Linked DNA regions of Homo sapiens: regions 1 and 2 are each linked to region 3. The links come from fine-mapping of genetic effects on gene expression. A gene starts in region 3. Each other region holds a variant in brackets. All regions are shown on one strand. Distances are between the middles of the regions.

Region 1 (8,189 bases), 50 kb before region 3:
GTGAGATGGTATCTCATTGTAGTTTTGATTTGCATTTCTCTGATGGCCAGTGATGTTGAGCATTTTTTCATGTGTTTTTTGGCTGCATAAATGTCTTCTTTTGAGAAGTGTCTGTTCATGTCCTTCGCCCACTTTTTGATGGGGTTGTTTGTTTTTTTCTTGGAAATTTGTTTGAGTTCATTGTAGATTCTGGATATTAGCCCTTTGTCAGATGAGTAGGTTGTGAAAATCTTCTCCCATTTTGTAGGTTGCATGTTCACTCTGATGGTGGTTTCTTTTGCTGTGCAGAAGCTCTTTAGTTTAATTAGATCCCATTTGTCAATTTTGGCTTTTGTTGCCATTGCTTTTGGTGTTTTAGACATGAAGTTCTTGCCCATGACTATGACCTGAATGGTAATCCCTAGGTTTTCTTCTAGGGTTTTTTATGGTTTTAGGTCTAATGTTTAAGTCTTTAATCCATCTTGAATTAATTTTTGTATAAGGTGTAAGGAAGGGATCCAGTTTCAGCTTTCTACATATGGCTAGCCAGTTTTCCCAGCACCATTTATTAAATAGGGAATCCTTTCCCCATTGCTTGTTTTTCTCAGGTTTGTCAAAGATCAGATAGTTGTAGATATGTGGCATTATTTCTGAGGGCTCTGTTCTGTTCCATTGATCTATATCTCTGTTTTGGTACCAGTACCATGCTGTTTTGGTTACTGTAGCCTTGTAGTATAGTTTGAAGTCAGGTAGCATGATGCCTAAAGCTTTGTTCTTCTGTTTCACTTTTCATCTGTCGTATCATCTCAAAATCTTTTCAAGTTCTTTCAGAAAGTTTGTCAGAGAGTTTCTCAGGGAACTGGATGACAGTCTCTGAATTTTTAACTATTGTTCCTTGGAGAGCCCTGCTGGAAAACACAGAATACCCTACCAACTTTTGCAGAGGATCTCTGTTGCTGAGCAATTCTTCTAAACATTTTAACTGACCAGTATAGGGATGAAGAAAAATTTTGTAAGCAGCTTCTCACACCAAGTCGCCTGGTGCTTCTGCATGGAGACCATCAATTATGATACGATCCCCATCAGATAAAAGTTATGGTGAATGTGTTCTAGTAAGAGATGCTTCTCAATCTTGTTGGGAAAGTTGTTTGCCGTAAGACATGTACTACTCAAATCCAAGATTTTAACATTGAGGTCCACTGCTCTTTTACACTTTTCTTTGTCTAGATGGATTCCACTAATTTCAAAATCAAACATAAACAGTTAGGCCACTTGCCTAGTTTTTGTTTTGTTTTTAATCAGCTAGTAATTTTTGCAAACTTTGACATAATTCCACATTTGTGTTCATCCAAGTCAGCCACTCTGAACAAGGAATCTGAGAGCTCATCGAAGATGCGCACAATCTGGGGTCCAGGTGGGGTGGAACATGCATGTTCCACAAGCAATTCTGTCTTTCTCAAGGCTTTTTATTGGGCAATATTAAATTTTTCTGGAGCGCTGAGCTCAGGACATCCAAAAAGACCCCAGTGCTCACTAAACAGGTCCAAGTGGTAGCCCTGACATTGAAGGCGGAGCCCACCAGGGACCAGCAGATGCTGACCCTTCCACATGGGTATCAACTCTGAGGCTGCCCCTGCCTACCCGCCCTGGCCACAGGGGCACTACTCCAGCTACAAAGCAGCCTAGCCTTTGGGCACATAGTGTTTGTGCAGTAACCCCATGCCCAGCTGCAAGACCCTTGCTCCAGTGCTGCAGCTCCAGCCAGGAGTGCACGTTCTGCATTTCCGGGCTTTCTTCATTTTTAAAATGCTTTTTTCTTTTCTTTCTTTCCTTCTTTCTTTTGTTCACTTGTAATATTTCAAAATACCTGCCTTCAAGTTCAGAAATTATTTCTTCTGCTTGGTCTAGTCTGTTGTTGAAGCTCTGGATTGTATTTTGTCATTTCATTCATTGAATTCTTCAGCTCTAGGATTTCTGTTTGGCTCTTTTTTAATGATATCTGTCTTTGTTGGATTTCTCATTCAAATAATTACTTTCCTGATTTCACTGAATTGTCTATCTGTGTTCTCTTGTATCTCACTGAGTTTCCTTACTATTATTTAGAATTCATTTTTGGCATTTGACATATTTCCTTATGATTGGGGTCTATTACTGGAGACATTGTTTTCCTTTGGAGGTGTCATGTTTCCTTTCTTTTTCATGTTCAACATGTTCCTACATTGATTTCTACATATCTGGTGGAAAAATTGCCTCTTCCAATTTTATGAAGTAGGTTTCATAGGGAAAAGCTTATTTGTATGAATGGGTCTTGGAGTGTTGGCCTTGGTTCTGGGTGGACACTGTAGTGTAGTCTCCATGTAGTCTTTTTTTTTTTTTCAGCTGTAATCCACACTAGTAACATTTATGAGTGTCTCAGTGTCCTAGGCTAAGATTTTGATGGTAATGGGAGTGGGTTCCTATGCTGGGAGTGGGTTCTCCAGGCTATTTCTTAGGTTTGGGGAGTGTGTGTGCACATAGTGGTTCAGTCACCTTGGGGTCTGGCTCACTGGAATTGAGGCCATGGAGTTATTACTGTGGCTGGGAGCATGGGCACACATTTGCTTGGCTGGCCTTGTGGCATGCCTGCCAGGAGTACATTGTGGAATTGTTCTCACGTCCAGAATGTAGGCACACAGCTGGTCAGCTGGCTTGGTAGTATATCTACCAGGGATAGCCCACAGTACTGTTTTTCAGGCCTGAGACATGGGTGCAAGGCTGCTCAGATGGCCTAAGGGTGTGTCTGCTCTGGGGAAGGGGGACCCACCGGAGTGTTTCTCAATTTTGGGACACAGGTGTTAGGCAGCTCAGCTAGCTCAGGATAGCCTTTGGGGACTGTTTCTTAGGTCCAGGTCATGGGCTCAAAGCTGCTTGGCTGGCCTAGGGTTGTGCCCACCAGAAGCCAGACTGTGGGACTGTGTCTCAGATCTTGATTGCAGGTGCAGGGCCATTGGGCAGGCTAGGGGCATGTCTGCTGGGGAGTGGGAGGACACTACAGGGACAGGGCTATTTTTCAGGTCCTGAGCAGAAGTGTGTAGCTGCGCCACCAGCCTGAAGTATGTATTAGCTGTTCAGAGGCTTGGATGCCTCTCCTACTTTGAGGGGGGCATGCAGTGGTTTGGCTGGCTCAAGGTTGAGTTCACCCTGGGTGGGACTGCCAGACTGTTCATTCAGGTGGAAGTGTGGCAGCAGGGATGGGTGGGTTACCTTGCTGTGCAAGACCTGAATCACAACCTACCCTGGGCCTGAGCTTTGTGCAGATGGAGTTGTGGCATTCAGCCACCTGTGTAGGCTTGGTAAAATTAAGATGAAGCCCCAGTATTGGAGAGGAACAGTGGCTACTGGCCATCAGAACAAGGTGCACTACAGAGATGGCTCTGTTCTCATGATGCGATGCTGCACCAGCTTGTCTTGCAGAGGGTGAGTGGTGGGTGGGAAGTATACACGTCATGCCCCTAAACTGGGGCAATGCAGCTGCATGAATTCCTGGCAGTTCTCCAAACTGGGCTCAGGGCTTGCAAGGAGCATGTGATTCTCCTGTCCTAAGAACTGTGAGTGTTTGTGGTGGCAATGGCGACTGGTGGGGATCTTTTGCCTACCTTTTCCCCCTGAAATGGGAAGTTCCTCCTGACTCCTGGCAGATTCAATCTGAGCAGGGGAGATGGTTGCAGACACCAGGTACCTCCATACCGCCCTCCTGGATGTCAGTGAATCACCACAGGTGCATCTCCACTCCCTTGCTGCACATCAGCACTCTCCCTTCAACATCCCAGTAAAATCTTAGCTGTTTATTTGTTGCCTTGGTCCTTGTGGGAGGGATGCGTATCAAGCATCACTAGTCAGCAATTTTGATGATGTCACTTCTTTACTTGTACATAAAAGCAATGATTATTTCCTTGGCTTGCCAGAGAGCTGAAAGTTAAAATTTCATTTGAGAATATAATCCCAGGCTCCCAGTGATCTCTCTCTTTATAGAACTTGTGATCTTTCTAGCATTCTTTTAAATTTATTTTTAATTTTCCAGTAGTAAATCATTAAATAATCCAGACTTCCCATTGGGTGTAGTTTTTAAGCTGCTAGCACCACCATCTTCATTTTATTTACCAAGCTAACAAATAGAAAAATTAGACCTAGAGTCTGGCTTTTCTGACCCATATATAATGCATGCAGTCATAGGTCTAACAAAGTTCATTTACACCATAAAAAAGAGCAAACGACAATTTTTACAATAAGCATATTTTGCCAAAAATAAAAAAGGGAATAAAAGAATGTCTTACTTGCCTCCTTGTTAAAACAAACTTTTTTAAAAAAATAATTTTTTTCTTGCTTCCAGTGTGGTTGGAGAAACTTTAACAAAAATTGACTATCATGGGAAGATCTTTGTATTAATAGCTCTGGAAGAGAGTGTTAGACTATCTTAGGAGGCATACTGCTTCACATAAGTGAAGATAATAAGAGACATGGCCTCTATCCATTGTAGCCATTAAGATCCTGT[C/T]GGGATATAGTAGTCACACTACTTATTTAACAGAAAATATAACATAAGGAATTGTTAATTAGGTATAAAGTTGTTAGTTAGGTGGCTAAAAAGGCAAAAAGGAAACATAAAGCAACTGCAGGAGCAGATACCACTCCTAGGGCTGGGGGAACAAAGGGAAGAGGTTGCACATACAGGTTTGAGTATTTCTTATCCAAAATGCTTAGGACCAGAAGTGTTTGATTTCAGCTTTCTTCAGATTTTGGAATATTTGCATATACATAATGAGATACCTTGGGGATGGCACCCAAGTCTAAACATGGAATTCACTTATGTTCCATATACATATATATAGCCTGAAGATAATTTTATATAAGATTTTAAATAATTTTGTGGATAAAACAAAGTTTTGACTGTATTTTGGCTGTGACCCATCACATGAGGTCAACTGTGAAAATTTCCACCTGTGGCATCATGTCAGTCCTCAGAGTTTCAGATTTTGGAGCATTTAAAATTTCAGGTTGTTGAATTAGGGATGTTCAATCTGTATTAAAACTTGGAAGCTTGGAGACAAGAAGCTCTGAAACTCAGATCTCTAAAAAGGGGTCTTTAGATAGCTAGTTTTTGTGTCTCTGACAAGGTGCAAAAAGGCTGGTTCTATAAGAGTTGTGATGGGAAGGACTTGCCCTCTCAGGGTGAGGCAGCATTGGGGAGCGGAATTGCCTTCTTAGGGTGAAAAAGCAATGTAGGGCTGATGCTTCCAGGAAGAGGAAGCAGGCAAGAGCAAGTAGTTCTTTCTTCCTGTCTCCACCTTGTGCTGTCCTTCTAAACAACCTCCTGTCATCACCATAATTGGCAGAACTTAAGAGGGAGCCAGCTGGAATGTAGTTTGTAAAGTCTCAGCTCCAGCATTATGTAGCACAGAATGGATAGATTTGATGCTGAGAAACAAAAACTTAGTAACTGGCACATTCATTTAATTCTAAATAAAATGTTTTCCCCACCTATCCAATATTTTTGATTCCTATGTTCTTGAGATGATCAGAAATAATCAAATATTATTGTAACTTATGCTTTCCTATCATTTTAACCAAGGCTGAATCAAAGTTAAATTTTACTTCTTTCTATTATTGTGGGGGAGGGGAGGGGGGTGTATTCAGGGATTAGTTGGGAAAATGGGAAAGATTACTTTTAATTTCTATAATGGACATACTAGTTTTATTGTTGACCACCTCAAATATGTTGGAGATACATGGAGTATAAATTATAAATAAATAAAACTCAGCTGTGCCAACTAATAAGAGACTCCCAACAACTCCCCAATTATCTAACCTTGGGGTGGGGACGGGAATGTACACTTTTACTGGTGAAGAATTAGTAGCAGGAGATGATGGAAGAAAGATAGTCTGAGCAGACACGCACAACACTTCTTCAGTCTGAACTCTGTTTTTCATTCACCCAAAGGCTACTAGCCTAAAGGTGTAGTGCCTTCCAATTTCTGGATGAAAAAGCCACTTGGGAGATAGAGAAGAGAGAACAACAGAGGAAGTACATATTTAAAGTAAATGTGCTAGTTAAGATTCCCTTAAATTAAAATCAGGATGGAAATAATTTTATTTTGAGAACCTTCAGAGAATACTATTGAATAATCTATGGTTCCTTAACACAGGAAGGGGTCTTCAATTACCTTTTTTCCTTTAACTGAAATTTTAAAATTAATAGTATCTTTTTCAATTTAGAAATGAAAGAAACTTTAAAACTGCTGCAAAAACATATACGGTTATATCTTGTTATGTGATGGTGCTTAACATAAAACAGGATGTTTTACTCATGGCCAGGAAAGCTTGTTATATAAGTACATTTAAACATAAAGCCCTCCTCCCTGCCTTAAAAAAATAAAAAGGTCTATAAATTCCTAAGGATTTTGAAACTCTTGTTTAAGAACTTTGAGGAATTGGGGAAATGTAGGTTATGCTTGATTTTTAAAAAATGGTTGTTTTCAACAAAACATAATCTTGCAGAAGGGAAGAGTAGGAGGGTACGAATTATTTAAAAGCTTTTCCTAAGTGACTTTGATATCTGCTCCCCACCCCAAATCAGGTGAAGACCAATGGCAAAAATAAACATAAAGGTGGATGGAAAATTGCAATGCCAGGAGAGATATTACCCTTTAATAAAAATCTTTTCCATGTTTATGATTATTTTATTTTTTATCTTATAACGTAAATAATAAAATAACATCTTAATGATAACCAGAGCACTAAAAACCACCACCAAAAAAAAAAAAAAAAAAAAAAATCACAGGTACCTGGGTATTAAAATGGCCTGTTAAGGCAGGCAGCTCAGTGCGATTGGAATTCACTACAGGGAATATTAGATTGAACAAAGAACTAGAATAGAAGTGTTGACAAAATTTAATTAGGAGAGGGCTGGTAGACACTCAAGCATGGCCAGAGAACACAGAGATTAGAGCCTGTGGAGCCTCCCTCTAAGTGGGCATAGGAGGTAGTGAAACCTGTTTGGAGTTGAGCTGCTGCAGCCTGGGGCACTTCTCTGGGGAGAGAGCTCTTGTTTCTAATTTTCCTAGAATACAGCTAACAAGGCTAATGTTACCAGCCCAGCTGAGGTCTTTTTTTTTTTTTTCCTTCTGCTGAGGTTTGTAATTCTACAATTTTAAATGTCCTTAACTATAAAAAACAGTCTATGAACCAACCCAACTTCCACATTACCCAAGTATCATTACCCTATATATCTCTTACATTAACTTATTATGTTAGTTTGTTCTTCTATAGTAGTGCTTCCTATCGCAATTCTTATAGAACCAGATATGTTGGTATTTGTGGTCTCAGGTTTTTTAAGCAAAATTTTTTCATAAATCTATAAAAAGGATATAGTAATATATAAATCCCTTGGCATTTTCAGAATTTATATTTGTGGTGTCCACCCTCATTTTGTAAAAGTCCATGTCATGTGTTAATTTAAATGGAGAAAATAAAATCCACTCTAGTCTATAGGGTTGTTATGAGGATTAAATGAGATAACATAGAGTATTTAGTAAGAATTTAAATGTCTGGGGCTGAATGTTTGCAGATTACAGGGTTAATCTTTTTGTTAGAGCAGGAAGAATCCAGTGAAAGTTTGATATTCCCACTAATGATTGGTTCAATTTTGAAGATTCTTCAAGGCCTCCCACATATACTAGAATTCTTCCAAATATACTTCTATGCCTTTAATGAAAGAACATTGCCACTTGATTCGAACACTCAGTTGAAGAGAGCTTACCATATGTGGTTAGAATCAGGCTTCAGAGCCAGATCACCCAGGGTGGACCCCTCCCTTTCCTACTTGGTGATCTCGGGTGAATTATTTTTACCTTATTTTACCTCTCTGCCTCACTTTCTCATTCCTAAAATAAGAATAATAGTACCTCCTTGAAAGGATTGTGAAAAAGATTAAATGAGTTAACATATGTCAAGGGCTTACAACAGAGGTTGGCTGTTAGCCAATGGTAGCTATCCTCTAGTGATAAGTTCAAAAACATCTCTTAAATCAATCAGCTTCTGGCAATTTATTTTTAACATAGTTCCAGTAACAACAAAGCTATATTGAACAGTTTTGCCCCACCACTGGTTACAAGCAGGCTTATAAAATCCTGTTTTCAAACCTTATTTTCTACACAGACGGAGTTTCACTCTTGTTG
Region 2 (8,189 bases), 40 kb before region 3:
CTGTGCATGGGAACTTATTAAAAATTTCTTAGGGCAAGGCAAATTGAATTAACTAAATCAGGTACATTCTTTTCTGTCATACTCCATGATATGGTTTGGATCTGTGTCCCCACCAAATCTCATGTCGAATTGTAATCCCCAGTGTTGGTGGTTGGGCCTATTGGGTGGGAGGTGATTGGCTCATGGGGGTGGCTTCTCATTAATGATTTAGCACCATCCCCTTGGTACTGTCTACATGATAGTGAGTGCGTCCTCATGAGATCTGGTTGTTTAAAAGTGTGTGGCGTCTCCCTCCTCTCACTCTTCCTCCTGCTGTGGCCGTGTGATGTGCCTGCTCCCACTTTGCCTTCCACCATAATTGTAAGTTTCCTGAGGTCTCCCCAGAAGCCAAGCAGATGCCAGCATCATGCTTCCTGTACAGCTTGCCAAACCATAGGCAAATTAAACCTCTTTTCTTTATAAATTACCCAGTCTTGGCTGGGCGCAGTGGCTCACATCTATAACCCCAGCACTTTGGGAGGCCAAGGTGGGCAGATCACCTGAGGTCGGGAGTTCGAGACCAGCCTGGCCAACATGGAGAAACCCCATCTCTACTAAAAATACAAAATTAGCTGGGTGTGGTGGCGCATGCCTGTAATCCCAGCTACTTGGGAGACTGAGGCAGGAGAATTGCTTGAACCCGGGAGGCGGAGGTTGCAGTGAGCTGAGATTGCGCCATTGCACTCCAGCCTGGGAAACAAGAGTGAAACTCTCTCTCAAAAAAAATTAAATAAATAAATAAATAAATTACCCAGTCTCAGGTATTTCTTTATGGCAATGAGAGAAAGGACTAATATACTCCTATATATCATCCTCAAAAGTTTTGAAGTGGTAAATGTGGGTTTAAATCAACCTTCTTACTGTGCTATTTGTCCTGCCTATTCTGTTTTGTTTTCTCTCTCTTCTTGCCTTTTTATGAAGTGATTGATTTTTAAATTCTGTTTTCCTGTTAGTCTGAAAACTATGCAATTTTTTTACCCTAGAAGTGACAAATTAGTACCTTAACCCTCTAGTAGGAAAATACAACTAATATACTATTGTTGGACATATGACCTTTATTTTGATTCTCTCTATATTTTAAACTCCACAAAACTTTACTGTTATTATTTTACATAGTCAATGTTCTTTTAGATTTATCTACTAATTTATGGCTTTTTAAATATTCTTTCTTGCCTGCATAGCTGGTATTTTTCTTCTGCCTAACATGCCTATTTCCTTCCTGGAAGTCTGCTGGTAGCAAATTCTCTCAGTTTTTGACTGACAATGTCTTTATTCATTTTCATTCCTGAAGGATATTATTCATTTTCATTCCTGAAGAATGAAGAATGCTTCATTCCTGAAGCATAGAATTCTATGTTAGTCATTATTTTCTTTTAGTATATTGGTTATATAATTGTTGTCCCTTGATTTTTTCATACTACTGCTAAACCAGAGCTGACAGGGTACATTTTGCCACTTTGAAGATAATCTGTTACTTTAAAAATCTATTTGCCAGCCTGGGCAACATGGAGAAACCCCATCTCTACAACAAATACAAAAATTAGTTGGGTGTAGTGGCTCATGCCTGTTGTCCCAGCTACCTGGTAGGGTGAGGCGAGAGTATCACTTGAGCCTGGGAGGTTGAGGCTGCAGTGAGCTGAGATCATGCCACTGCACTCCAGCCTGGGCAACAGAAAGAGACTGTGTCTCAAAAAACAAACAAACAAACAAATAAATAATAAAAAAAACTATTTGCTTTAGATTTTTTTTCCCTGCAATTTCACTGTGAAATGTCTAGATACAGACTTAACAATCTTTTATCCTGATTAGGATCCATCACTAAAATTATTCCTTTTCACATGCTAGCTAAAGTTATAAGCTCATTCCTAGTTGGAAATGCCTTATATGCAAAATATTAGTTACAACCATAATTTTCTACAATCCCAACACTGACTGCACTCAAAACAATTTCTGGACTTACAAAATAACATTGAATTCTTTATGAAATAACATTGAATTTCTTTATTCTCTGTTCTGAACAACTAAATGTTAACATTATATTTATTACCTTCTTTAGTCTTCCATTTTTATAAGTGTGAGGTTAAAAATGAAGGGTAAATGACTGCCCAAGGATGCAAGGAAACCATTTTAATGGTTTTGATGACCTCTTTCTTTGGCTATCCAAAGCTAGTTGGGCTTGAGAATGGGTTTCACAATCTATTATAGCAAGTATGACCAATTAAAGAGCAGGCAAGTATGATACAGGATTAAGTGAATATGTGTACTACACAGGATTCCTGTTTGGGATTCTAGGCAACGATTTGCATAAGCCAGATAAAAACAATTGAGAGAGAACTACAGGTGTTCAGGAAATACTCACAGGCAGTCACAGACTTTGATGAAGTTCTATAAGGGAAGACTTTTATCGTATCCAGGGCAAAGTTGTCAAAACCAGCCTATGGTAGGAATGTCTAATTTTGAAGTGTCAGAATAAGCTAAGCTGTATCTCCACAGTAAATGGTCACAGTCAGGCAAGATACTTCAGTGACTGTATCCAAGGATGAAAATCACTTTCTAGAGTCAGAGTAGACACTCAGTTGAAACATCATCCTCTGACAATAAGTAGAGAGAATGGTTTCATGTGAGGAAAGTTCTGCGTTCATTCTCTTTTGGAGGTTTTATCCTCTGTGACTCTATAATGCTCCACAAGGGGGACACCAGGGTCCCTGGATTTGAAAAATGGCTTCAGGTTTTTTATGCAGTCGTGTGCAGCATAACAACATTTTGGTCAAGGGTGGAGCACATCAATGATGGTGGCTACATCATATAGCTTAGGTGTTTAGCAGGCAATACCATCTAGATTTATGTAAGCACACTTTGATATTCACACAACAAGGAAATCACCTAACGATGCATTTCTCAGAATGTATCCCCATTGTTAAGCAATACATGACTATATATTGATACTTAGCAAAATCTTATGATTTGGTTGTTATCCTAAATATGCCTTTAAACATAAACAGACACATCTCAAAAGAAGACATACACACAGCTGAAAACCATATGAAAAAAATGCTCAACATTATTCATCATTAGAGAAATGCCAATCAAAGCTCAATGAAATACCATCTCACACCAGTCAGAATGGCTATTTTTAAAAAGTCAAAAAGTAACAGATGTTGGCAAGGTTGTGGATAGAAGAGAACACTTACACACTGTTGGTAGGCATGTAAATTAGTTCAGCCACTGCAAAGTAGTTTGGAGATTTCTCAAAGAACTGAAAACAGAACTATCATTTGACCCAGCAATCCCATTACTGCGTATATAACCAAAGGAATATAAATTGTTCTACCATAAAGACACATGCATGTGTATGCTCATCACAGCACTTCTCATGCACAAGAGCAAAGACATGGAGCTTAACTAGATGCCCATCAACGGTGGACTGGATAAAGAAAATGTGGTACATGTATACTACACAATATTACATGGCCATAAAAAATAATAAAATCATGTCCTTTGCAGCAACATGGATGAGGCTGGAGACTATTACCCTAAGTGAATTAATGCAGGAACAGAAAACCAAATATTGTTCTTACTTATAAGAAGTGTGAGTTAAACGCTGAGTACACATGGACACAAAGAAAGGAACAACAGATACTGGGACCTACTTGAGGGTAGAGGGTGGGAGGAAGATGAGGATTGAAACACTACCTATTGGGTACTATGCTCACTACCTGGATGATGAAATCATTTATATACCAAACCTCGCTACACACAACTTACTCATGTAACAAATCTGCACAGGTACCCTCTGAACATAAAAGTCGGAAGGAGAAAAAAAACATATTTTAACATTAAGTAGATATTCAAAAAGTCAAAAAAATTGTTTAAAGAATAAAACAAGATAAATATAAATCTTATAAAATTTATAATTATCATCTGAAAGAAAACTGTCACACCTATTAAAAATACTGTATCTGTCTTGACAATTGTTCAAAATCAAAAAATCTTGAGTTGATTAGCAAATTTATCTTGCATCAGTATTTTTAAGGCATTTGAAAGTTCTGAAAAACTTTTTTTTTCAAAGAAGGCTGTCATCTGATGGAAAATTTTTCATACACAATTACTTTCATTCCGCTAGCATTATTTTTGGTGAGACTATTTGAAAACATCAATCAAACCAGTGTCTTTTGATGTTAGGTATTTTGAAAGATTAAAAAAAGTAAAAAGACAACAGTAAAATATGCCTTTACATATACATTAACTGACAAACTTTTTTCAGATATTATTTAACTTGTACATATAGTAAAAAAATGAATTTCTATATTCTACGTACTGGCATGAAAATAATCCTGCATCAGTGCTAGCTTTACTTACTTGCTTAAAGTACCAGCAAATCAGGGATACTTTAAAACCCAATTATTTTGAAGAACTTTGACATCATTTGAAAATATTTTTAAGTTTCCCTTATGATTCTTTGGCCCAAAGAAAATCCTATGGGTCAAAAAAAGTCTTCGCTAAAGAAATATTCTACTTTTATTGGAAGTATGTTGTTATAAAACACTTGTGGATTTATCTAGATATCTTTTCATTACTGATTTTTAATTTATTTCTGTTGTGGTCAGAAAATAATATTTTGTTTGGTTGCAGTCACTTGGAATTTAATAATACTTGTTTGTTGGCCCAGCATATGCTCTTTCTTGGTGAATATTCTGGGTGACTTTGAAACAAATGTATAGTCTGCAATTGTTGAGTGTAATATTGTGAAGGTATCATTTAGGTCAGGTTGGTTGATAGCATTGTTCAAGTAGTCT[A/G]TTATCTTACTGATTTGCATCTAGTTGCTCTAGCAATACTGAAAGAGCAGTGTTTAAATTGTCAAATATGATAATGGAATTTTCTATGGTTTTCCTTTATGTCTATTTATTCTCGGTGTATTTTGAAGTTCTGTTATCAGGTACTTGCACATTTAGGTCCCTTTGACAGAGATAGTTCATGATGATAAAAGGATCTACCTATCTCTGGTAATGTTCTTTGTCTTCAAATCTACTTTGTCTGATATTAGCATAGCCCCATCAGCTAAAAATTAATAAAAAAATTTTTTTTAGAGACAGGTTCTCCTGTTACCCACGCTGGAATTCAGTAGCATGACCATAGCTCACTGCAATCTCAAACTCCTTAGCACAAGTGATCCTCCCACCTCAGCCTCCCAAGTAGCTGAGCTACCATGCCTGGTAGCTATTTCATTTTTAATATTTGCATGGAATATCTTTTTGAATCCTTTTCTTTAAAACTACCCATATCTTTGTATTTAACATGTATTTCTTTTAAACAACATATTATTGGATTTTGGTTTTTATCTAGTCAAGTGGTTCTCAACCAGGGGTGATTTCTTCACCCCCACCATGGGGCATGATATGGTTTGGCTGTGTCCCCAACCACATCTCATCTTGAATTCCTATGTGTTGTGGGAGGGACCCTGTGGGAGGTAACTGAATCATGAGGGCAGCTCTTTTCCATGCTGTTCTTGTGATAGCGTATAAGTCTCACAAGATCTGACGGTATCATAAGGGGGAGTTTCCTTGTTGGCAATATCTAGAAATAATTTTAGTTATCATAAGTGAAAGAGAGGAGCGTAGTACTACTGGTATCTAGTGGGTAGAGGTCAGGGATACTGTTAAACATTTTGCAATGCACAAAACAGCCTCTACATCAAAGAATTATCTGTTCCAAAATGTCAACGGTGCTGAGAAACTCTAGTTTGATAATCTGATTTTTAATTAAAGCCATTAGCCTAATTTCATTTAATAGTTATGTGATTAAATGTAAACCTAGCATTTGCTATTTGTTTTCTGTTCATCCTATCAGTTCTTTGTTCCTTTGTTGTTTTTTTCTTGCCTTCTATTGGATCAAACCAGTATTTCTTTAGTATTCTGTTTTCTTCTCCTTTTATGCCTCTTCACTTATTGTTTTAATGTAAATATTCTGTTCTTCAAAGTTTTCATTTATATATTTATTTATCAGTATAGGCACATTATTTCCTATATTACTCAATGGGCTATGGTCCATTACTGTAATTTGTTTTGATACTCAATTTCCCCATCTCTGGCCACTGGGAGTTGTTTCAAACTAACTTCTGTGTTTTTTTTATTTGTTTCTTATCATTATTTGAACACTTCTTCCTTTCTAGGACTAACATATTCCAACCTCACCTTGTATTTCTGCTGCCTCAGCAAAAGTATTCAGATGTAATCAGTTATTTCTCCAAGGAGCCCTTATTCCTTTCAGTGGAGAATAATATTCAGAAGCTAAGATCTGAGATATAGGTATGTTCATTGCTATTGGGGACTGGTAGTCTCAGGCCCTTTTAGTAGACAGATCTATCAAATATATGTGAAAAAATACACACACACATGGTTACACATATTTATATCAACATTCATTTCTATATATACCTGATACTTTATCTTTCAATCCAACACCTTAGGGATCATTCTAGTTTTCTCCATTTCCATATTTGCAATTTCTTTCTTCAACAGAAGAACCTACTCCCCATGATCTTATTTGTAAGTCCGCCTTTATGTAGACAATCTCTCATCATCCCACCTCTATGGCTGGTGTGGATGCCCTCCTCAGCCCATGTCAGACCATCCTTTTTGTGGACTCCTTCTACGGGCTCTGATATCCTATGCCAGATACCCTTCCTCCCCTAACACACAATGAGTGACATCCAGTAATTTATTTTAAAATTTAAGATATATTTATCAGTCCTAAAACTTCCATTTGGTTCTGAAATGTCCTATCTAGCCTCATGGAGCACAACTCCAGAGAGGACTCAGAGATTGCTGGTAAACTGAGGAAGAAGTTAAGAAGTGGGGCTATTTGTAATAATTGAAGATCTTCCTATCGACCAAATGCCCTTCTCCCCTATGCTCATCTGCTTATAGCCAGGTGTTTTACTCTCCAGGCAAAAAACTCAAACAGTTCTCTAAAGGGCATGTAGGTATTTATACCTGAGAGTAAAGCCTGCCTTTTTCGGGCATGTGGAAAATCCCCATAATATAAAAGCTGGCTTCCCACCCTTTCACTTAAATATGAAGCCCTCTGGTTGACAGTTTCCACTATGGATAAAGAGATTTAAATCAGCCTTTTTAGCATTCACTTAGGCAGCACATATACCAGCCTTTTTATTACTCCCTCCTTAAACATGAAGAGGTAGCCAAAGATCTTCAGCTACTTTAGAAAAGCCTGGAATTTAAAAGAGAAACTGAGGGAAACTAACATGAATGTCAACAAATGCCAAAGGAAGCAAAGGAAATTCAGAAATCCAAAGAGAACTTTAAAAACTCTCTCCTAATGCTATCCCTCCCCTATCTCCCCACCCACTGACAGGCCTCAGTGTGTGATGTTCCCCTCCCTGTGTCCCTGTGTTCTCATTGTTCAACTCCCACTTATGAGTGAAAACATACCTAATATAGATGATGGGTTGATGGGTGCAGCAAATCACCATGGCACGTGTATACCTATTTAACAAACCTGCACTTTCTGCACATGTATCCCAGAACTTAAAGTATAATTAAAAAAAAAAATAAGGAAGTTCAAGGTCTTCTTTACTGTCTTCTAAATCTCTAACTCCTTACCATTAATCTGAATTTATGTGTCATTTCCATGTATATTTTTATAAAATATAACATTACTCTTACTCTCTTAAAATATTACTTTCATTATATATGTATCCAAAATCAATATATAGCATTGCTTTCCAAGTTTTAAAATTTTATATAAATGGTATCATGCTTAATGTATTTACAACTTTAAAAAAACAGTATGTATGTTTTTGAGATTTATCTGTATCAGTCAGTAGAGCTCTAAATTTTTCATTTAAATGGATGTATAAATATGTTTATCCATTTTCCTGTAAACATTTATTTTGCTTAAGAAAACTTTTTTTGCTATTAAAAATGCTACAATATTCTTTAAAAAATCTCTAATTAGCATTTCAACAAATCTAAAAGATGCTAAATCCATATCATGAAAAAGGAATTATGAAGAATGAGAGTTCTTGGAAATTAAATGTATGATTGCTGGAGAAAAAAAAAAATCTCAGAAGTATTGGAAGGCAAACCCAAGAAAATCTTCCAAAATGCAGAACAGCAGCAAAAAAAAAAAAA
Region 3 (8,189 bases):
GTCCACAAACCCACCTCTACTTATATCTCCGAATATAAGGAAAGAAGGCAGTTGCTTCTCTATCTAAGGCTAAACCTTTCAGCCATATTGTGCATCTTTCCTTCCGCCTCTTCTAGAACATCAGACTCTCTCCTCTCTCTGCAAACTCTCACTTTTATTTTATCCATTAGTATTTAAACATTTATAAATCTGTTTCTTTTAAAAACAATACCAAAAAAGTAAAGAAACAAAACAAAAACAATCCTTGCTCATCCCCATATCCTCTATGAAGCTCAATCTCGTGTCCTTTTGACAGCTGGTATTTAGTTGCTTCACTTCTTACCCATTCACTTTTCAAACCACTAAATGGTGTTTCCCACCACACAACTGCTCTGCTAAGTGTTGAAATGACCTGTAAATTCCTAAATCCAATGGGTACTTTTCACTCAGTATCCTGCATATTCTTTTTTGGGGGGAGGGGGAAGGGGGGACGGAGTCTCGCTCTGTTGTCCAGGCTGGAGTGCAATGGCAGGATCTTGGCTCACTGCAACCTCCGACTATCGGGTTCAGGCGATTCTCCTGCAACCTCTGACTATCGGGTTCAAGTGATTCTCCTGCCTCAGCCTCCAGAGTAGCTGGGATTACAGGCGCCCATCGCCATGCCCAGTTAATTTTTGTATTTTTAGTAGAGACGGGGTTTCACCATATTGGCCAGGCTGGTCTCAAACTCCTGACCTCAGGTGATCCACCCGCCTCGCCTCCCAAAGTTCTGGGATTACAGGCGTGAGCCACTGCGACTGGCATTTTTTTTTTTTTTTTTTTTTTTTTTTTTTTTTTTTGAGACAGAGTTTCATTCTTGTTGCCCAGGCTGGAATACAATGGAGCGATCTCGGCTCACCGCAACCTCTGCCTCCCGGATTCAAGCGATTCTCCTGCCTCAGCCTCCCAAGTAGCTGGAATTACAGGCATGTGCCACCATGCCCGGCTAATTTTGTATTTTTAGTAGAGATGGGGTTTCTCCATGTTGGTCAGGCTGGTCTTGAACTCCCGACCTCAGGTGATCCGTCCGCCTTGGCCTCCCAAAGTGCTGGGATTACAGGTGTGAGCCACTGCACCCGGCCATATCCTGCATATTCTTTAAACAAATTTACATTGTTGACTTCTCTCACCTTCCAAACCATTCCTTTTTGCAGGCATCCAAAGACTAACTCCCCAGATTTTTTTTCTTAATTTATTGGTTTCCCCTCCTCGGTCTCCTTGAAGGTTCTTCATTCTCAACCCATCCTTTGGATGTTCAACCCCAAACCTAGGCTTTTCTCTCACTATATACTTTCTCTAAGCAATGTCATTTATTTCTATGTCTTTGATTATTATCTCTCTACTTAAGTGCACACATATATTAATCTACCTATAGAAAATGAAGCACCAGCTCTGTTCTGCACTGTTAACAGAGGTAAATACCTGGAAACAAAGTAAATGTAAACATGTAAAAAAAAAATTAGTGAAGTACAGTGCATCCATATAATGCAATATATGCAGTTACCTTCCTATGGACCAAAATCAACATGGCAGATTGTTTTTAAATGGCTAATTTACAAAACTCTTCCCCATTCTGATCTTCTTCAAAAGACAGCCTGAGTTAGAGAATAACAGAAAAACATTACATTCCTTTTCAATCGGTTTGCCGTCACTAATGATTCAATGGACAATTATTCCAGAGGTAGATGAAAATGGACCATAGAGGAGTCAATATGCATATGGGAAAAGCTAACCAATCACTGCCAGAGTCTGATTATTTCATAAAACCTTACATACTATTCTAACCCTCCTCTCCACCATCATCTACATTTAATCCTCACCAAGTCCTGTCTACTATTCTTCCTAAACATTTTTTAAATGTTTCTACTTCTCGTCCCCAGGGTCACCATCCCAATTTTGGCCACCATCATGTTGAACATTTCCCTGTATCCACTCTTGCCCTCTCTAAGAAGTGTACTTTTTAAAACCAAAATTTAGCACTCCACTATGTAAAATGCTCCAATGGCGTCCCATCACCCTTAGCAATAAAGTCAAAACTCCTTACAGTGCCTTATAAGGCACTCCGTGTTGGGCCTGAATAACTCTCCTGCCTTATCTGTTACCAGTTTTCCTCTCACACTTTATTTTCCAACCTTACTGACCTTTCAATTACAAACTGCACAAATGCTATTCCCTTGCCAGGTACACTCCTTTTCCTCCTCCTGGCCCCACCCCAGTGCTCACACCTGGCTTATTCCAACTCTTCAGGTCTCAGATAAATCATTTTCTTAAGAGATTATCCCTGCCCCCTCCCCATTACATGACCCCCATACTTTCTCTGTTACATACCATCACTTATTTCATGTCTGCATTTCCCACTAGATCAAAAGGTCTCTGAGGGTTTGTCTTCAATACTGTACACCCAGTGACTAGCAAAAATCCGGCATCAAGAAGGTATTCAATAAATACTTGTTGAAAAATAAAGACTAATAAAGAAATAACTACATTTAACAACAATAGTCACCATTGGACACTTACTAATGCCTAAAGAGAATACAGAACTTAGCTATATCCCACAACTAATAACTAGTAGAACTAAGGGAGAGTCCATGAATGTTTGGTTTCTATTTCAGCTTTCCACCAGTCTTTACTTAATTCACCCAAATTCTTCCAAACCAATTCTCTCTCCATGTCCTACCTCTAGGGAATGGCTTGAGGCATACCGTATCACTTGCATTATCTTTCACTCAGAAACTCTGTCCCATCTAGAAGTGTCAAGGCTGAAAGAACTACACTGAAAAAACAGGGAATTTCAGTGCTTCAGTTCTGAATTACTGATAACTCTTTGAGCCATCTCATACGAGGAAAATGTCATCTAGAATATCAAACTCCTCAGCACTAGAGCAGCAACAGCAATTTCTCTCCCTTTCGGCCTCCTTCTAGCGAGATGTGGGAGGTCCGACAAGGAGCTTGGCTGTTCTCCACCATCCTCTGCCTCGGAGAACGCGACCACAACGTGGCGCCCAGTTGAGGGGGAACCCTTGCGAAATACGGAGAGGCGCTCCCACACCCTCCAATCTCCAACCACCACTGTCAACTCCTCCAGAGGCAGGTATCCTACCCCGGCCCTGGGAGGCCGACTGGGCGGAGCTTGGGGTCCGGACCACGCGGAGCCCTGGCAGTGTCTATGCCTAGATCTCGCCGCCCTGCCGTCCACCCATTTCTCCCTACCTGACTCGGCCGTCGCCACCAACGCGCTCTCCCAACCCTCGGAGTCAGTTCCAAAACCAAACCAAAAAGGAGGAGAGCAGACAAGGCTTCAGCCTGCGACTGAGAACAGGGAGGCGGCACGCCTTGGGGAACGAGGGCCCGAGGCCATACGCGCTAATACAGGCCAGTGTCGGCGTAAACTTTCTCCGTTACCGGCCCGGCCGCGACCGCCATGTTTCCGCCGCCGAAATCCGCGACGGTACGGAACGCCGCCGGGGTCAAACTGCGCGGCGCGCCTCCTTCCCGAGGCCCGGCCCCCTCCCCGCCCAAACCCGCGCGCCGCCACACACTCAGGTGAGCAAGGCGCTGCGCGAGTGTCAACTGCCCCACCTAAGGCGCCTGCCTTCCTCAAGCCAAAGTCGACTCCTGGGACCTGGAATCAGCAGCTGAGAACAGACAGCGGGAAGACCACCAAAGATCAGGCTGACAGTGCCCATCAAGCATCTAGGCCACCGCCTCGGGCTGGACCGAACGGGGACAGGGTGGACAGGACTGCCACGCGTGGGCTGTAAATACTGCGGGAGGCGTTGCTGCTCATTAATATATATGGCATAATATATGGCTTTGTAACCAGCTAAGGCCCAAGCTCCTTAGGCCCTCCCTCAGACCTTTCAGTTCCTCAAATGCAGGGACATGTCGGGTTTTGCTCAACATTAAATCACCTTAGCATAGTGCCTGACACATAGTTGGCACTTAAATATTTGTAAAATAATAATATGCAATAGGCTCTCCACGATCCGTAGTTCTCTCCTCCCACTTGTTTTGCATGTATTATCTATATATTTTTCCTATTTTCCATAATAGAGTGTGAATTTCCTAATTTTCATAATAGATGTTGGGGGTTGGTGTGGCCAGCACATCTATAGGAATGAACAACTCTCAGATTGAGATTCTGCATATGTGGATGAAAATTTTGAGTTAGATTCTCTCTAGACTCCTGATTTTAAAAGCAATCACAACTCAACTTCCCAAATCTGTAACTAGCTCTCTGGGGAACACGAGTGCCACATTTCCAACTACCTGCTAGATGTTTCTACTCAAATATATTGTCATCACTTCCAACTCAACTTGCCTTTAATGGACATTTATATACATTTATTATGCCCCCCATTTGAATCCCCTTCCGTATTTGGAGAATTCCCCACCTGAGTTAAGAGTCTAATGGCTGCCGCTGAAATGCTGAACACTTGTTTAACTAATCATGTGTACCCGCTGGAAGCCATGAGTCAAAAAAGGCACAGAAAGCTACACTCCCAGGTCACCTGTAGGAGTATAGCAAGTGTAGAGATCGAGAACCCATCCCTAACAGCAAGGTAAGCTTCCGAGGCAGTAGTGAGAGTGCTGGCATCCACCATTAACATGTCAGAGATGCAAGATGCCTGTGCTTGGTGAGGGTCACAACCCCAGAGCCCTTTCCCAATCTGTTCTGTAGCCTGTTAACAGTCTCTGTGTACATTTCTGGGTAGCCTGTGACAGACTCTGTACTACATAGCTGTGAGGCAGGACAATAGGGTCTGGAGGCAAGGAACTTACGGCTGATTCATGCTGACTTTCTAGAACTAAATCAAAAGGAAAGCCCCAACTTTCCACAGCTAAGTAACAAAGGGACCCGGCCCCCTCCCCCACCACCGCCCTTTTCTGCGTGGCAGACGGAAAATTGAAAGTACCTCGGATTGGTTGCTTTCCATAACTAATTAAATGTTTGCATAGGGTGTAACCTTTGTAACTTCGCTTCAGGCTCTGATTGGTTGCTTTCCGCTATCAGACTGATTGTGGGCCACTATATTTGCGTGGGGTGTACACCAAGTGGCCAATGGGAAACCTCTAGAGGGTGTTTATACCCCAGAAAATTCTATAACCCGGCCGCCCCGCTCTTGAGCCCCATGTTCCGGCTCTTCACACCCTGTGGAGTGTACTTTCATTTTCAATAAATCTCTGCTTTTGTTGCTTCATTCCTTCCTTGCTTTGTTTGTGCGTTTTGTCTAATTCCTTGTTCAAGATGCCAAGAACCTGGACACCTTCCACCGGTAACAGCCAAGGTAGATTCTGGCCATGTAGGTGCAAGCCTCAATCTCCAGCTATCCTTTGAACTACTTAGCGTCCTCTAGTAAACTTACTTTCTGCTTAAATTAGCTACAGCTGCATTCAGTTGCTTAGCACTAAGACCAGCTCACTAAATCAGTGGTTTTTCATCATCTTCCTCTAACATGGTCTTCTGCCTTATGACTTTAAAACCATTTTTGATGCTTGTTATCTTGTCCTTATACTTTAGAATACTTCAGTGAGATGTGTGTATGTTTGAAAGTTAATCTGCACAGCCCAGGGTGGGTAATTAGCATTTGAAAGACTAATCAAAAATGTTCACTGCAGAGTTGAATGCACAGATGCTTCCAGTATCACCATGTAAATCTGCACTAGATGTACCTTAGTTAGCATAAAGGATTAGAAAGAATTCTTCATTGTGGAAACAAGATGTTCAAAATACGTGGCTGGTTAGAATACTGTACAAGCACTTATGCATAACTGTGGCGTAGAAATCTGCTGTGTAGCAGACCGACAGCCTTCAGAATGGCTTAGTCTAGACTTCTGTTTAATATTTTGCCACAAAGTACTGTTTGTGTACTGTTTTTTGTGTCTGCTTGCTGATAAGATTTGTGTAGTAGCATTCAGTCTGAGACTTGTTTTAACTGTATGACACTACCTAGTACCGAGGGAGGAGAAAGATAGCCTTGTCAATCTTTAGTTATTGAAGGATACCAGTATTTACCAAAAAAAATTTGACACTTATGAATGACCAAGTGCTGTTCATTTTCATCCACCCTATCTCTTGCATTTATTATTTCCCATCAACTTCTATTGCTTCTACTCTGTTACGGTATTACTTCAGTAACCTCTATGCTGGTCATCTTGATTTCAGCCTCAGCTCAGTCTAACCCATTACACAGGCCCCTGGCTGATGCTCTCAGAGCACCATGCTTTGACACTTCTGGGATTAAAACCAGTGATTTATACAGGCTACAGAATAAAGTCCAAATTCAGTCTGGCACCTGAGGCCCTCAAGGACCCAATCTAAATCCCCCTTTATCCTGAAAGAAGAAAGGGTCAATTTGCGACATCTGGTACATCCGCAGCCAGACACCTAAATATAAAACAGCCACCTGGGAACCATTGCAGAGACTGGTGATTTCAGGTTCTGGTTAATGATGGCAGTATAATGATCCTAATCACTAGAATATCCATTCTTTAACACCTACTTCTATACAGACAAGGTCTGTGTGCTTCAGGCCAGGAATATCACCTGAGGAGTTATTTCAGACTAGGAACACCTGTTGAAAATATACTCATGATAATAAGTCAAGAAAAGGAAGAGGGAGCAGCACGCATCACAGGAGGTACGGTGGATCTTATCACACATTCCAGTCCTCTGGCAGGGAGTCACAGATGAGTCCTATGTTATTTCTTATGTTCTCTATTGTTTTTCTCCTATTTTTTCCATTTATTCAGTTCAGTCGTAGGGCTAAACTAACTCAGATTCTCCATAGAAAATCAGCTGGGCCTCCCTTATTCTGTGTAATATAAAGTACTTTCACCTATATTACATAATCTACACAAAAACCCAATGATGTAAATATTTTCATCACCATTTTGCAAATAATGTAACCAAGGTCCAGAGATACTACGTTGTTCTAGGTCCTCATAACTGTCTAAGATCAGGGAATTAAATTCAGTCTTTTGGCTTCAAGTTCTGGGCCATCAAGAGCAGCTTTCTAAATATCAACCCCCACTCTGTGAGGAAACACAGGTATTTCTTTCTCATTACTATTGTTTCAGTAAGTAGGGAAAGAGTTACATCATTCAGTCTACACCTTAGAATCATCTGGCCCAGACCAGTTAGAGTTTCTGAAATTAGCCTTGGGTGTGTGTGTGTGTGTGTGTGTGTGTGTGTGTGTGTGTGTGTTTTAAAGCCTCCCTCTTTTCCAGTGATTCTAATGTAAAGCACAGCTTGAAAACTACTAAGTTATTACCTCCATTAGTGCAGTGGTTCTTCAGGTATGGTCCCCAGACAAGCTGCATTAACATCACCTGGGACCTAGTTAGAAATGGAAATTATAAGGCCCTATCCCCAGACCTACTGAATCAGGAACTCTAAGGGTAGAGCCGAGATTTTGGGATTCGGTTCAGATGTGTGTATCAGAAGACTCAACAGTGTCTTAATTGCAGTTTATTTCTCTGTCTTGTAAAAACGGTCTAGAAGTAGGTGTTCCAGAGCAGACATCGTCCTCCTTGGTGTTAGAGATCCTGATTCCTTCTTTTTTTCTACCCTACCATTCTCAGGATGTGGCTTCCTCTTCATAGGCCAAGATGGCTGCCTGATTTCCAGCTATGACTTCTGAATTCCAGTCAGCAAGTAGGAAATGCACTTCCCCCCACCCTTACTTTGACACTTCTTGGAAGCCGTATGACACATCAGCTTATATCACATTGACTAGTATTTAGTATTTATAGAGTCTGCAAAAGGTGGTAATTTCGGGGGCGGCCATGTGCCCACCTAAAATCAGGGTTCTCTTTCAGAGAAAGGAGAATAAATATTGGATGACAGCAAGCAGTATTTGCCAGAGTTAACTAATTGCTTTTTTTCTACCTCCAAAATTCTAAAGTGAGATAATAAGCATCATAACTGTTTGAACACTTTTGGTTTGCTGTTCTAAGTGATGCTCCTTATTTCATTAGTCTTTTCACTGTATTAATGATGGCAAGTATTTATTCATATGGCTGAACTATGATTAATTCTTCCCCTAATTTTGAATATTTGGAATGTTACAATTTTTGCTGTTGAAAGTGCTGCACTAGGGCTTATTGCATTTGTGATGTACTGCATTTCTGATTATCACTTCGGAACGTAGATTCCTAGATAGGTTAAA

Alleles and levels. Alleles are on the strand shown, and positions count from the first base shown. SD is a standard deviation of normalised expression in the study named. Not every link is listed here.
In carriers of allele G in region 2, the expression in pancreas of the gene that starts at base 3,462 in region 3 tends to be lower than with A alone (moderate effect, 0.52 SD a copy in GTEx).

The links. PIP is the estimated chance that this variant, and not a neighbour inherited with it, causes the effect.
Region 1: its variant is the best candidate, but not a certain one, in a credible set for the expression of TMEM168 in whole blood (TOPMed, PIP 0.52).
Region 2: its variant is the best candidate, but not a certain one, in a credible set for the expression of TMEM168 in pancreas (GTEx, PIP 0.54).

What each region holds. Positions count from the first base shown.
Region 1 is chr7:112,737,016-112,745,204 of GRCh38, forward strand. It overlaps the pseudogene MIPEPP1. Among named protein-coding and RNA genes, the nearest start is that of TMEM168, 49 kb to the right of the region's middle. The variant C/T (reference allele first, on the strand shown) is at 4,511.
Region 2 is chr7:112,747,251-112,755,439 of GRCh38, forward strand. No RefSeq gene overlaps it. Among named protein-coding and RNA genes, the nearest start is that of TMEM168, 39 kb to the right of the region's middle. The variant A/G (reference allele first, on the strand shown) is at 4,836.
Region 3 is chr7:112,786,932-112,795,120 of GRCh38, forward strand. TMEM168 (transmembrane protein 168) reads right to left here and starts at 3,462. Exons shown (of 5, transcript NM_022484.6): 1 at 3,229-3,462. RefSeq lists an enhancer at 3,721-3,850.